Homo sapiens: one gene and its partners. The protein of the gene in region 1 interacts with the protein of each later gene in a pairwise test. Each region holds a gene or a part of one and is shown in the gene's direction. Other genes may lie near its edges.

Region 1 (3,500 bases):
CTATGCCTAGCATTTTTGTTACGTGCATGGATCTGCAAAGGAATTGTGGTTTGTTTCACAGCTGCATGTAGCAGGCATATGTGTGACATATTTTTATTTCAGCTATTATTTCCTGTTTTTTATTTTCAGCATGTTGGAACAGGATTCCAGGAGAATGAACCCTAGTGTGAGCCCTGCAAATCAAAGGAGGCACCTTCTAGGATTTTCTGCTAAAGAGGCACAGGACACATCAGATGGTATTATCCAGAAAAACAGCTACAGGTAAGATGGCATGCATCTATCTTTTGGCCTAAGTGATTTAATGAAGCTGAAACAAGAGAATTATCTGTAGTATAACATTGCATCTAAATTGTTCGTGTATATTTTGAGTAGTAGAACACATAAATTACTGAAACCATTAATACATTTTACTTTTAATATTGTAAAATTAAATTTACTTTGAAACCTTTTGTAGTTTTAAAATTCCTATAGAGATGTAATCTTAAAATCTCAGTTTGTGTGCATTAATATACATATTGAAATATATACATATTATATATAATGTCTTTAATAATTATTTTATCTATCATGTGTTTATACATATAATACATCTAATATTTGTTACTGTCTCACCTGTGGATGGATATGATATGGTGGAATAACATGATTGAACCTATTTGCAGTCATTAGGTAAAATCATTTATACTCATTTATTGTGATCTTTGTTGAATCCCTCCCTTGTTGCAATTTAATAATGACTTGATAAATTTCCATATTGCTTGTCAATAGCAAAAGGCTTTAATTGTATAAAAATGCAATTTCTATATTATGTTAACTAGAAGAAGGTATAGTGGACATTTTTATAGTTGTATACTTTTTGATAAACATTTCCCTGTGTTATTTAGAATTTGTATTAGAGCCAAATGGAGCCAGGTCCTTGACTAACAAGGCAAAGGGAGGTCACAGTATGGTAACTATTGCACAGTATAATGCTTGAAAATTATTACAGATTTGTTTACTTTTATCTCTTTAAGGATTTGTAGGTTGAGGGCAATCTTTCTTCCTGATTTTTACTGTGTTACATCCATACTGTTGAAAGATGATCACCACAATCCTGCAGGCTTGTCTCCACTTAGCCTTCCTGAAAAAACTGTTATTTTTGTGGAGTACAGTATGCCAAGTCAGTGGAGGACCCAAAGGATTTTATGGCAGTAGCTGCAACGCAACATAGCAATGATAGATGTCATAATGTTGGAAAACATAGCATTTCCTGCTTTTTTACATGCCAAAATTCATCATACTTCTTAAAATATTCACCTTGATGATCTCTTAACGGTGCCCCTGAATATTGGTAGAGTTTAATAGTATATTTAATTTTCATAAGTAATTTGTGCAGGTTTGCCCTACGTGTTCTATAATTTTGAATTCTGTTAGTGTCCACATAAGATCCATCAAAAATTAAATTTAAATCTAATAGCCTTTGGATTTACGAGAGTTGAGATAGCGTCTTGCTAAAGAATAGAACAAGTTATGGATTGAATGCTTGAAATTACAGTTCAGGTAAGCTTTACAAGAATATTATTTATTCTGCACTAACTGCAGCAAGTAGAAGCCTTCCACATTAGCATAAGATAACATGGTGGCTCCCAGAAAGCATAGTAGTCTGATCATACTAGTTCAAACTAAAAGTCTGAATGACTTTCTGGCTGAAATTTATCAGCTTTCAGAGTAGTACATGGGATGCAAGCTATTTTTTCCCTCCCTTCTCCAAAGTCACCATTGAGTGAATAATCTGGGTTACTGGTCTTGGGGAAAAAAAAAAACCAAAAAACAACCCAGGAAAGATTATGGATTCTTGATTCCATGCAAGTCCTTTGAAATATTTTTCAGCAACTTGAGAGATTTAAATAAATGTCAGTCCATTAATTTGATGTTCTTGATTTTATCAGTATAAATACTGAATAAAAGATACCAAAAAATGTTTGTGAAACATTTGAAAGCACCTAATATTACTTTGTTCTGTGTTCTGAACTGAATTTTAGATGTTTTATCTATTTTCAGCCGTGATACCTATACATTTTTTTTAATGCAGCTTACTTTATGTTTCTTTTTCTAAGGAGAGCTATGAGACATGGTTCAAATAAAAAATGAGTAGATTCTAATCCCATAGTTTATAATATTGTATTAGCCTATCATTTAGTAATTAACTGCTTATATTTTTTCAGTCATAGAAATGTGTGGCATATAAATAGTATGACCATATAATGTTCTATCAAACTGGGACACTCTTAAGAAGGAAAGGTAGTGCTAGTAATAATTACATCAGAATACCAGTACTGCTGTCTTGGATAAATGAGAAAGGATGGTCACCCTATATAAGATGTCACCCAGAACTGATCTTTACTCCAAGAATTCTCATTAACTCTAGCTCCCTAGCACTGTCCTTTACTTTATTTACTTTAATGATTTATTTGTTGAATTTTTTTCTCTTGGCATAAAATGTTTGCAAGCAGACTCGAACTCTGACTGTTCCTGGGCTAATGTTGGTCTAATTGTCTCCAGATTGTATGTTGGCTGATTTTCTCTCTCCTTTAACTCCACCCAATCCTTGTCCTGGTATTTCTCCTATCAGACTTTTTTTTTTTTTTTCCAAAGAATATTTTTGGCTGATAGAACAAAGCCAGTTAGCACAGATGTGCAGAAATCATTACTAGAGTTCAGATCACAAATATATTTTCAAAAGCAGTTTTGGACTTTTCTCATGGACTACAGTGTTTGTATTTTTCTAAGTATGCAGGCATGATTTTTAAAATAATGCGTATGTCATAGATTTATAAGAAGAGGTGTTAAGCAGCCTCCTCTTAGAGGCATTCAGATTTATCAAACACAAGACAGATACTTTTTTTCCTTCTCACTCAATGCTTCATTTTAGGCTGATCCTTTTGTGTTTGCATTCATTACCTGTGCACCAACATGTCTGTTTTATTCCAAACAACTTAAACCTACTTAACCCTTACAGCCACAAGAGAGGACATTGAGAATATTCCTGGTGCAAGTTGCAGGGAAGAATGTTCTATATATCCTCTGCTATTGTTTCTTTTCTCTCGTGTGTGGCATAAATAGCTATCTCTAACTTTTAACTTGAAGTTAGCCTTCCACTCTGCCAGAGTTATTTCTGTTAAGGGGCCAGTGCTTTCTGCCATCTTACTTGCCCTTTCCTCAGCATTTGGCTGTGTGGGTCATTTGCTCCTTGAAAGACTTTCCTTTTGTGTTACTATGGTTTTTTAGTTTCCTTTTTTTATTGGCTGCTGCTTCACAGTAATCTTTGTGGGCTCTTTTTTTACCCAACTCTCAAGGTTTGGAACTGTAAACTTTTTTTATTTTCTTTCTGCCTAGGTGACTCATCTATAATTTCATGCACAGTTCATATCTATATGTCCTGATGACTCTCAAATTTATGTTTTCAGTCCAGACTTCTCTTCTGAGTCTCCAGAGTCACATATCCAATAGTCTCTTTGACA
Region 2 (3,500 bases), on another chromosome or scaffold:
CATAGCCTCCCTTACAATACTTAAGGCTTTAATCCCCTTTGTATAGGAGTTTTTTTTCTCATTAGTGTTGAGTAGCCATTTTTTAAAGAAGACTACTTCTTAACCTTTTTTGAATTGTATTCTCTATTTTAGAATCCTAGTAAAGCTTGCACCCTCTAAGAAAAAGTAGAGATGTCCAGTCTCATGAAAAATTCTGCATATAATTTTAGATTAAAATCCTTGGCCTGAGAAAGATACTGGAACCAGAGAGACAGCCAAGAAATAGATAGAAGAATATTGGAAGTTGGCATATAATAAAAGTGGTATAAACATATCAATGAAGAAATGGCTGAAGAATGATACAGAAAAGAAACTGATTTCTAATTCATACTGTATTTTAAAAAATATTTGCTAGGTGGATTAAAGATCTAAATGTAGAAAAGTAAACTTGGAAAATTCAAAAGAAAATATAAGAATTTTTATGCTATAGAGAAGGATATTTTTAAAAACAAATTGACTAAAACATAATATGCATTGAAATACATCAAATAAAAGTAAACAAGGTGAAAACTTGGAAAAGATATTTTTAATACATACAACCGAGTTTGTATTCAGAATATGTATAAATAACGTTTATGTATTTATACAAAAATAGGAAAATGGGCGAAGAATATGAATAGATGGAAGAGGAAATCCTAACAGCCAATATAAACTTAGAAATGAAGTTGGTTCACATAACCAGATAAATTTGTTTACTTATTTATTTGCCAATACTTTCTGAATGCCAATTATGAGCTGAGTATTTGGAAAAAATAATTCAGAAGACCTAGGCAATCTATCCCCTAACAAAGTAGGATCCATGAATGTCTCTAAGACATGGAACCCATTGACCTGTTTTTTTCACCTTCCTTCCATCAGTAGTCCTTTTTCCTATCAGCTGGTAGACTTTGTGATAACTTAAGGTTCTAGGCATGTTCTTCTTTCCAGACCAAGGTGGTCCCAAGTTGAAATTATGGATGGAAAGTGACCTGGCTATAAAAATCTATCTTTCTGAAAGTATCCTCCTTCCAGACTGCCATCTATGTTGAAGCAATGCTCAAATAAAAAAAGTTTGTTGATGGAATTAATGGTCAAAGAAGCAAAGAGAAGGTTACTTAGTACTAGCCATGTATTCTGGCTTTTAAGTTTGGGAGGTATTCTTGAATATAAAATACAAGACATTTTGAGCTATGGGGCTCTCCTCACTGCTTTCTCTTTTGCACTTAAAAAAAAAAGTGTTCACTAGTTATATGAAAATAGGATTTTGTACACCCAACATTTAAAGGGTTGTATTGCAGTTTTTTAGTTCCAAAATTTAGAGAAATATTTTTCAAGCTTCTTGTCAGGTTTCTGATAACACTCCTAATAAAGTGGCTATAGCCATTAAAAAAAAGAAAGAAGATAGATTTGGATAGCACACGATCCCTTGCTTTCCATAATTGCTTTATAAGGTTTAGCTATCCAATCCTAGGACCAAATAGGAGATACAAATTAAATCAACAAAAATTTGACAAACATTAATGACAGTAGTGAGTATTGGTAATTGGAAACTAATAGGAGGAATATAATCTGTCACATTGCCTTAATTATCTATTACCATATAACAAATTATCCTAGAAGTTAGCAGCTTAAAACAACAAACATTTGGCCGGTGCGGTGGCCCACACCTGTAATCCCAGCACTTTGGGTGGCCGAGGCGGGTGGATCACAAGGTCAGGAGATCGAGACCATCCTGGTTAACACAGTGAAACCCCGTCTCTACTAAAAAGACAAAAAAAAAATTAAGCCAGGCGTGATGGCGGACGCCTGTAGTCCCAGCTACTCGGGAGGCTGAGGCAGGAGAATGGCATGAACCCAGGAGGCGGAGCTTGCAGTGAGCCAAGATCACACCACTGCACTCCAGCCTGAGCCACAGAGCGACACTCCGTCTCCAAAAAAAAAAAAAAAAAAAAAATTTATTTTATAGTTTCTGTGAGTTAGGAATCCTGACACAGCTGTGTTGGATTCTTTCAAGGTCCTCTCAAGGCCCTTATCAAGGTGTTGTCCTGGGCTGCAGTCACATTTGACTAGAGTAGAATACATTTTGGGTTTTTTCTTTGTTTGTTTTTTTGAGACAGTTACTCGCTCTGTTGCCTAGGCTGGAATGCAGTGGTGCGGATCTTGGCTCACTGCAACCTCTGCCTCCCAGGCTCAAATGATCCTCCCACCTCAGTTCCCCAAGTAGCTGGGACCACAGGCATGTCCTACCATGCCTGGATAATTTTTGTATTTTTCAGTAGATACAGGGTTTTGCCATGTTGCCCAGGCTGGTCTCGAACTCCTGACCTAATCTGCTCGCCTCAGCCTCCTGAAGTGCTGGGATTATGGGCATAAGCCATTGTACCCGGCTTTCAGCATTTTTAATATATATAGTATTTCCTCTGTAAAAAAGTACTTCATCATTCACCAAAATGGCAAGATTAAAAAATAATAATAAAGCACTTTAGAGTGTATTTTATTTTTTTATTTTTTTGAGACGGAATCTCGCTCTGTCGCCCAGGCTGGAGTGCAGTGGCGTGATCTCGGCTCACTGCAACCTCCGCCTCCGGTTCAAGTGATTTTCCGGCCTCAGTCTCCCAAGTAGCTGGGATTACAGGCATGCACCACCATGCCCGGCTAATCTTTGTATTTTTAGTAGAGACAGGGTTTCATCATGTTGGCCAGGCTGGTCTCGAACTCCTGACCTCAAGTGATCCACCCACCTCGGCCTTCCAAAGTGCAAGGATTACAGGCGTGAGCCACCACACCCAGCCCAGAGTGTATTTTAAATATGCATGCTTTTCAATATATATAATCATACCACTGCTATCTTTCATAAAAACCGACATTGATTTGTTAATATCAGGTATCCAGACAGTGTCGAAATTCCCTATTTGTTTCATAAATGGAAAATAAGTTGTGTCTACTTCATAATGGAGGGCAGAGCAGGACTTCTTTTTTCCTCTTCAGAACATTTTCTGCTTTCTAGAGAAATGTGGATAACTCTCGGGGACCAAAGGAGACCAGTGTCAGTAGAGTACAATCCTTTTTTTATGTTCTTTTCTGCAGATACAGTTGGTCCCACCTGGACAGATCCAGATCCAGGGTGGACAGGCTGTGCAGGTGCAGGGCCAGCAGGGCCAGACCCAGCAGATCATCATCCAGCAGCCCCAGACGGCTGTCACTGCTGGCCAGACTCAGGTAATTCCACTAGCTCTGTCACACAGGAGCAAAACTGATTTGGAAGAGTCAGATAACTGAGTCAGATATTTCATGTATAGCATGTATAGTAGAAAAGGGGATGAAAACCATAAAAAAATATATTTTTGGCCGGGCGCGGTGGCTCATGCCTGTAATCCCAGCACTTTGAGAGGCCGAGGCAAGCTGATCACAAGGTCAAGAGATCAAGAACATCCTGGCCAACATGGTGAAGCCCCGTCAAAATACAAAAATTAGGTGGGCAT
Region 3 (3,500 bases), 7.9 Mb from region 1:
TCTACTTCCTGGGCTGAAGTGATCCTTTTTTTTTTTTTTTTTTTTTGAGACAGAGTCTCTCTCTGTTGCCCAGGCTGCAGTGCAGTGGCACAGTCTCGGCTTACTGCAACCTCCACCTCCCAGGTTCACGCCATTCTCCTGCCTCAGCCTCCCGAGTAACTGGGACTACAGGCGCCCGCCACCACGCCCGGCTAATTTTTTGTATTTTTAGTAGAGACAGGGTTTCACGGTGTTAGCCAGGATGGTGTCGATCTCCTGACCTTGTGATCCGCCTGCCTCGGCCTCCCAAAGTGCTGGGATTACAGGTGTGAGCTACTGTGCCTGGCCTAGATATTTTAAAAGCAGTGGCGGCAGCAGCATATCCTGGTGACAGAGATGGCAAGGATGGCTGAAGGAAATAGTGCTCAGGACCCTCCTGACATTCCCACTTGTTCCCCATGTCTCAGTTACAGGCCCAAAAACTGCGACTGGCATACACAAGGAGCTCTCATTATGGTGGGTCTCTGCCCAATGTTAACCAGATTGGCTCTGGCCTGGCCGAGTTCCAGGTGAGTAGACCCCAGCCAGGGAGGAGTGGAGTTTCTTAGGCTGCTTCCTCTGCTGACTTCTGTCCTTTTTGGCAGAGCCCCCTCCACTCACCTTTGGATTCATCTCGGAGCACTCGGCACCATGGGCTGGTGGAACGGGTGCAGCGAGATCCTCGAAGAATGGTGTCCCCACTTCGCCGATACACCCGCCACATATCCTTCACAGGGGACTTGGGAGTGTCTGAAAGGTAGTGGGATGGGGTTCCTCAGGGACTCATAGGAAGCACTTGAAGTGTTGTGCGTCCCTTCCTTCTCTTGGAGCTCTTCTTTACCCAGCTTCCCTGAAAAGCGACCATAGCCCCTGCGTCAGCACCTGCTCCTGTGACAAGGAGTTTTGCTCCTGAGGCTGTGCCCCCTGTCTCTGGCTGGCTCTGGCTGTCTTCACATCAGCTTGCTGCCAGAGGCAAGCCTTCCTTGTCTCCTGCTAAAGGAGATTGGGTCTCTTCTCAGATTTCTAAGTTTTCAGTCTCAGAGACCTGCATAACTGTCTCCTCCAAGCCCTGCCTGAACATTCTCCTGGATTTTTTCAGCCCCTTTAGACCTGATTCCCTTTTTCTCTTCCATTCTTTGATCCTATTGTTGTCCCTTATAGAAGAGGAGAAAGGTATGAGTTTCTTGAAACAACTTATCTGCTGCCTTCATTGTTCTTTCCTCATTTGGCCTCTCTCATCTGTCCTCTCTACTTTTTTCCTTAACTGGTGCTGTTCACATTGACAGCTCTCCCTATAGTCCTGCCTACTTATCTCCTCCCCCAGAGTCTAGCTGGCGAAGGTAAGTGTCCAGGGCGGGCAGAAGCTCCTGCCTACTCTCTGACGTGTTTCTGGAAGGAGTTGCCCCTTCTGGGTTGGGGCTGGGATTACTGGGCTAAGGTTTCAACAGTACCTCTTCCTATAACGCCAGGGCTGAGAGAGGTGGAGACAGTTGGAGTAGGTGGGTCAGAGTCCAGCCTTGGCCATGTTGACACTAGTGGTCAAGCCTCCCAGTCCAGCCAGAGCAGAACCAATGGGAACCATAGCCAGGCTGGGGTGTGTGTGTAAGGGGGAGGGGAGAATGGCAGAGGGGCAGGTGAAAATGGCAACCTTCTGTCAAGGGTGGGTGCAAGATGTAGTGTTCTGGCACTTTTAGATTTCTTAAACTCTCCCCTTGTCCATCTCACTTTCAATGCTCATACCCAGGAATGCTGCTGGGCTCCAAGATTCCCATTCAGCTGGTCCTGGCAGAGAGAAGTTTCCAGCTCTCTTAGATTGACTGGGGGAGGGGTCAATCATAGGCAGGAGAAGAACCAGAAAGAAAAGGGGATGATCTGGGTGCTCAGCCATCTTTACTTCCACCTTAGCTGCCCCACATTTTCCAACCCCTATGCCCACCTTCTTGTCCACTGCCAGCCTTCCTCCTCATGACTTTGTTTTTCTACCCCAGGACGATGGCCTGGGGCAATTTCCCTGCAGAGAAGGGGCAGTTGTTTCGACTACCATCTGCACTTAACAGGTGATGGCTTTTGCCTTCTTTAGGCCAGATCTCTTATCTGTAGTTTCTGGGGCCCTGCTCCCTCACCCCCACCCTGTTCCAGACCAGCTAGTGTTTTCCCTTGCTGGGCAGGGCTTAGGGACCAGGAAGACTGTCACTGGTGTCAGCTCATTCCTGCTCCCCCCATAGGACAAGCTCTGACTCTGCCCTTCATACAAGTGTGATGAACCCCAGTCCCCAGGATACCTACCCAGGCCCCACACCTCCCAGCATCCTGCCCAGCCGACGTGGGGGTAAGTGGCCCTGTCCCAGGGTTGGGAGTAACCATGGAGCTATTTATTTATTTATTTATTTATTTATTATTTCTTTCTTTTTTGAGACGGAGTCTCACTCTGTCGCCTAGGCTGGAGTGCAGTGGCGTGATCTCGGCTCACTGCAACCTCCGCCCTCCGAGTTCAAGCGATTCTCCTGCCTCAGCCTCCTGAGTAGCTGGGATTACAGGCATCTGCCACTGTGCCTGGCTAATTTTTTGTGTTTTTAGTAGAGATGGGGTTTCACCATCTTGGCCAGGCTGGTCTTGAACTCCTGACCTCGTGATCCACCTGCCTCGGCCTCCCAAAGTGCTGGGATTACAGGCATGAGCCACCATACCCGGCCTCCATGGAGCTATTTAAAGCAGGTAGGCAAGTGAGCACTGCAGCCAATGCCACTGTATCCCTTGCAGGTATTCTGGATGGTGAAATGGACCCCAAAGGTATGTGTTCCTCACTGCTGTGGGTACTGAATGCCAAAGAATTTCTGGGCTGGTGTTGGGATTGTGTGCAGGTTCAGGGAGCAGGACTCCTTCCCACCTGCTTCTGCTTCCTGTCCTGCCTTACTGGCTCTTTCTCCAACTCTCCCATCACCAGTCTTTCTCTTTCAAGTACCTGCTATTGAGGAGAACTTGCTAGATGACAAGCATTTGCTGAAGCCATGGGATGCTAAGAAGGTAGGAGGAGGCCACCGGGTGTCACCCACTAGTCTCTCTGCTATCCCCTTGCCATGGGGCAGGCCTTCCAGGGTTCTCTGCTGAGCACTGTCCTCATTTTCCATATTCTCCCTTCTCTCCTCAGCTATCCTCATCCTCTTCCCGACCTCGGTCCTGTGAAGTCCCTGGAATTAAGTAAGTACTCCCTGAGGTTGGCTGAGAGGTGGGGGAAGGAAGTACAGGGAGATGTAGGAGACTGATCTCTGCTCTTCCCTGACCACTGCACCCACCCTCCTATTTACATCTTTCTTTTTCTCTCCTTCCCCTAGCATCTTTCCATCTCCTGACCAGCCTGCCAATGTGCCTGTCCTCCCACCTGCCATGAACACGGGGGGCTCCCTACCTGACCTCACCAACCTGCACTTTCCCCCACCACTGCCCACCCCCCTGGACCCTGAAGAGACAGCCTACCCTAGCCT
Region 4 (3,500 bases), on another chromosome or scaffold:
CCTGAGGCTGGGGAGGAAGGTGCCAGAGAGCTGCTGTCCCTGGCTCGAAGCTGCTGGCCACCGCCAAGGCCAGTCTCATGCCGAGAAGAAGTAAATAAACTATAAAGTACTGTTTTCCTTTAGCATTCAGCCAAACAGAGAATGACCAGCTATGGGAAAACAGCAAGGGGATGGATGAGGGCTTCTCCCCTTGGTGCTCAGAAGCAGAATTCATACCTGGGAGCCATAAAAGGACGGCCCCTCAACAGGTCAACACCAGGGCAGTCCTGGAGGGTTTCTCAGAAGAAGTGTGCCAGCAAGAGAGGAGACTAGATATATAGATAGGTAATCTATACTATAACAATACATATTATAATATAGATAGGGATAATGTCCTAAGACGTCTCTATGGGAATGATAAGGACTTAGAAAAGACAGAAAAGTAGAAAAACGGATGTGTCATGATAGGGGCCAATCCTGTCTCTTTTCATTTTCTTGATGTTAGAATGCCCAGAAAATAAAACATTGGAAGAAATTGAAGAGATTGTCAATTTCATGTCCTCTTTCATTCTAATGATTTGGGCAAAATGGGCTGAGCTATTGACTAACGAAGGAAAAGATTCCCTCGCAGTTGCTGGGTGACTGGGAGAGCTGCCATTGGTGCAAGTCCAGTGAGTTGGATGTTAAACTGCATGTGCCTTGCTTCCTGCCCCACCCCCCAGGCTACCGTTGCAAGGAAGAGCGTGCTGGTGGTTCGCCACGGGGAGAGAGTGGATCAGATCTTCGGGAAGGCATGGCTGCAGCAATGCTCCACTCCTGATGGTAGGTCACACTCAGGCGGGTCTACGGACAGAAACACTGTAGATCTAACCAATGAGATCTCCTTCTTAATGACCTTACATGGCACCAGATCCCCTGAGGCACCATTCTGTAGAATGACCATGTGTAGACTGTATGTGTGGAAAACGTGCCTGCTACATCTTCCTCCAGGGGTGTTCCATGTATGCATTTGAGTGTCTGTGTTGGAACCTCTCCAACCTAATCTTAACTGATGTAATTTTTGGCTATGCTGCTTAACAGATGGACGTATTCTTGAACATGCCTCTTGCACACCCCAGCTTTTCTCCTCTGAATGCCAGGAAGTAAGAATAGTGCTTATAAATACACATACCCACAAGCCAACCTCTGTATTGATGATCAATGTCCACATCAATGCTAATCTCCTAATAGGAAGCCTGTAGTGTCACAATTTCTAAGCCATGACCCATTACATAAATTAAGGCATTGAATGTAGTGACAAAATCAATTCACAGTTGCTAGGTTAGCCGAACCCTTTTGGGATCCCCCTCCAGAAGCCCAGCAGACCCAAGAAAGTGGTAAATGAGTAGGGAAAACCATTGGCAGATGACAATCACACACCAGAAAAGATTCTGAGCAGATAACATCATGATCAAGCATATTTCCAAGAACTCACAGAGCTAATAATATGGTCACCTCTATAAAACAAGATCAAGTAAAGATACAAGAGCTTAAAGCAACAATAAGACAATAGGTGGCTATCAGGATGCATTAACAAACATATAAGAAACTTTTTTTCAATAAAACAGTTTTTTTAGCTATTGAATTACTGAAGCTATAGATTGAACTGACACACCTTGTCCATGGTGGGGAGAACCAATACAAAACAATCAACACCAAAAATAGTTATTGAACTTCATAGAAAAAGAAAAAATATTTGGTCATCTGGACAAAAGATCAAGTCACTTATAAGGGAAAATATTTTAAAGGCACTGGAAATCCCCATCTGAAAGGAAACTCCTGGTGGATCTTTTCCCAAGGTAGAGAGGCCCTTGATAAAGTGAAGAATTACATCTAGTTTGTCTGAATTTTGTATATTGCAGGGTTTAATAAATCACAAGGAGGTATAGCCACGTCCTCCCCCAAGGTGACCAACCTCAGGGAACACAAGGGAGATTTGGGGGGCTCTACTGGCCTCTCCCCAGCTCAGCTCACTTTTGGCCCAGGCACCCACATCCTCACAGGGCCCCTCACCTCACCCCATATTCCACACAGACTCTGCTCCCATCAGGACCTGACCTTGCCCCACATCCTTGTCCTCTCCTGAGCTCTGCCCTCTGCCCCCAGAGTGATCACAGCTGAAGTGTCAATGACAGCAAAATACCTAAATGGAGTGTCTTGACATTTTAGAGGGGGATCACAGATGCCTTTGAGAACACAATGAAATTGATGGACTTTCTCTCTGATTTTAAAACTGCCTTTCCCAAGAGCTAATGTTGGCATTGAATAAACACCTCTAAAATGCAGTGTTCAAACAAGAGTCTCTGCCCATGGAAATCCCAGGGAGGGAGTCTTCAGAAAACTCCTATATGGAAACTAAAATGCAGGCATGAAAAATTGCCCCCCGCTGACCCCTGCTGCCCCCCACTGCCCCCTGACTCTGGGTTTGTGCAAGGCTGTGGGCCAGGATGAAGGGGCCTGGCATATTCTGGGGTGCAAAGGGCAGGGCCTGCTATGTATGGCAGAGCAGGTCTCAGGAAGGTCAGTGTGGCTGCTGGAACCTCCTAATAACCAGGAGGCTTGGGGTCCCTTTGGAGAATGTGAAGGCAAACCAGAGTGCACTGGAGGGAGCAGTGTGTCGTGGTGTCCTGTGTGAGGATAATCAGTCATCCTGACGTGGTGACATGAGACCAGTGCCCCGACTCGTTGACCACTCCCTCTTGAGTCAGACTCTGGGCTATGGGTGTTACCTCACTGACACCTCGCAATCGCTACTCTTTCCCTGTTTTTTACTGATAAGAGAGATGAAGTCATTTATTTCTGGCTGCACAGTGAGGAGATGGTGATGCCAGGATTTGCTACCAGACTGTCAGATCTTAGAACTCAAGGTCAAACTCCACGTGAACCCTGGCACCGGGCAGCCTCTGGTGGGAGACAGTCCCAGTGAGCCCACTTCCAGCCTGGCTTCAAGCAATTGACTAAAGAATGCACAACACAGGCATCTCCAGCTCAAGCACTCTGTCCCCTGAGCAAGAAGGATACGTTTAAAGCTAGGGGGATGGATCATTGATGCCAACTTCAGATTCTTACCGAGTTACACTAAACTAGTCATAGAGACACTTTATCAGGTTCTTCATCAGGAAAATGTAAGAGTGAATCTTCATGGGGCATTTTGGGAGGACAAAGAGGGTTGCATAGTTCCTGGGGCTGAAACCTAAGTTGTCTGCATTTGAGAAAATGTTGTGTGCACAGCTGAGCAGCACTTTCTTCTCAAATTGAAGCCACGTTGCAGAGAATGTTCAGAAACAACACAGTTGACAATAATTTCAATAATAACATTGCTGTTAGAGTGGGTCTTGGTCTTGGGAGTTTTGTGGAACAAATCTGTACTAACTTGATGAAACTGAACGTCTGATGCTTATTTATACTTCAGGGAAATACTACAGGCCAGACCTGAATTTCCCCTGCAGTCTGCCAAGACGGAGTCGTGGGATCAAAGACTT

The links. Proteins that work in one complex are often made in the same cells at the same time.
Region 2: the proteins of ATF6 (region 1) and NFYA interact in a two-hybrid assay, tested with the Homo sapiens proteins (one study listed by BioGRID).
Region 3: the proteins of ATF6 (region 1) and CRTC2 interact in binary tests that used the Homo sapiens proteins (3 or more experiments, as listed by UniProt).
Region 4: the proteins of ATF6 (region 1) and UBASH3A interact in a two-hybrid assay, tested with the Homo sapiens proteins (one large-scale study listed by BioGRID and IntAct).

What each region holds. Positions count from the first base shown.
Region 1 is NC_000001.11:161,846,320-161,849,819, forward strand, and holds part of ATF6 (cyclic AMP-dependent transcription factor ATF-6 alpha), read left to right. Parts: intron 1-129; coding exon 130-261; intron 262-3,500.
Region 2 is NC_000006.12:41,086,474-41,089,973, forward strand, and holds part of NFYA (nuclear transcription factor Y subunit alpha), read left to right. Parts: intron 1-3,105; coding exon 3,106-3,237; intron 3,238-3,500. UniProt on the Homo sapiens protein: Component of the sequence-specific heterotrimeric transcription factor (NF-Y) which specifically recognizes a 5'-CCAAT-3' box motif found in the promoters of its target genes.
Region 3 is NC_000001.11:153,952,113-153,955,612, reverse strand, and holds part of CRTC2 (CREB-regulated transcription coactivator 2), read left to right. Parts: intron 1-446; coding exon 447-548; intron 549-623; coding exon 624-740; intron 741-1,296; coding exon 1,297-1,358; intron 1,359-2,006; coding exon 2,007-2,075; intron 2,076-2,243; coding exon 2,244-2,347; intron 2,348-2,640; exon of another isoform or gene 2,641-2,714; coding exon of another isoform or gene 2,715-2,733; intron 2,734-2,778; coding exon 2,779-2,808; intron 2,809-2,962; coding exon of another isoform or gene 2,963-2,977; coding exon 2,978-3,042; intron 3,043-3,166; coding exon 3,167-3,216; intron 3,217-3,350; coding exon 3,351-3,500. UniProt on the Homo sapiens protein: Transcriptional coactivator for CREB1 which activates transcription through both consensus and variant cAMP response element (CRE) sites.
Region 4 is NC_000021.9:42,431,402-42,434,901, forward strand, and holds part of UBASH3A (ubiquitin-associated and SH3 domain-containing protein A), read left to right. Parts: intron 1-701; coding exon 702-801; intron 802-3,430; coding exon 3,431-3,500. UniProt on the Homo sapiens protein: Interferes with CBL-mediated down-regulation and degradation of receptor-type tyrosine kinases. Promotes accumulation of activated target receptors, such as T-cell receptors, EGFR and PDGFRB, on the cell surface.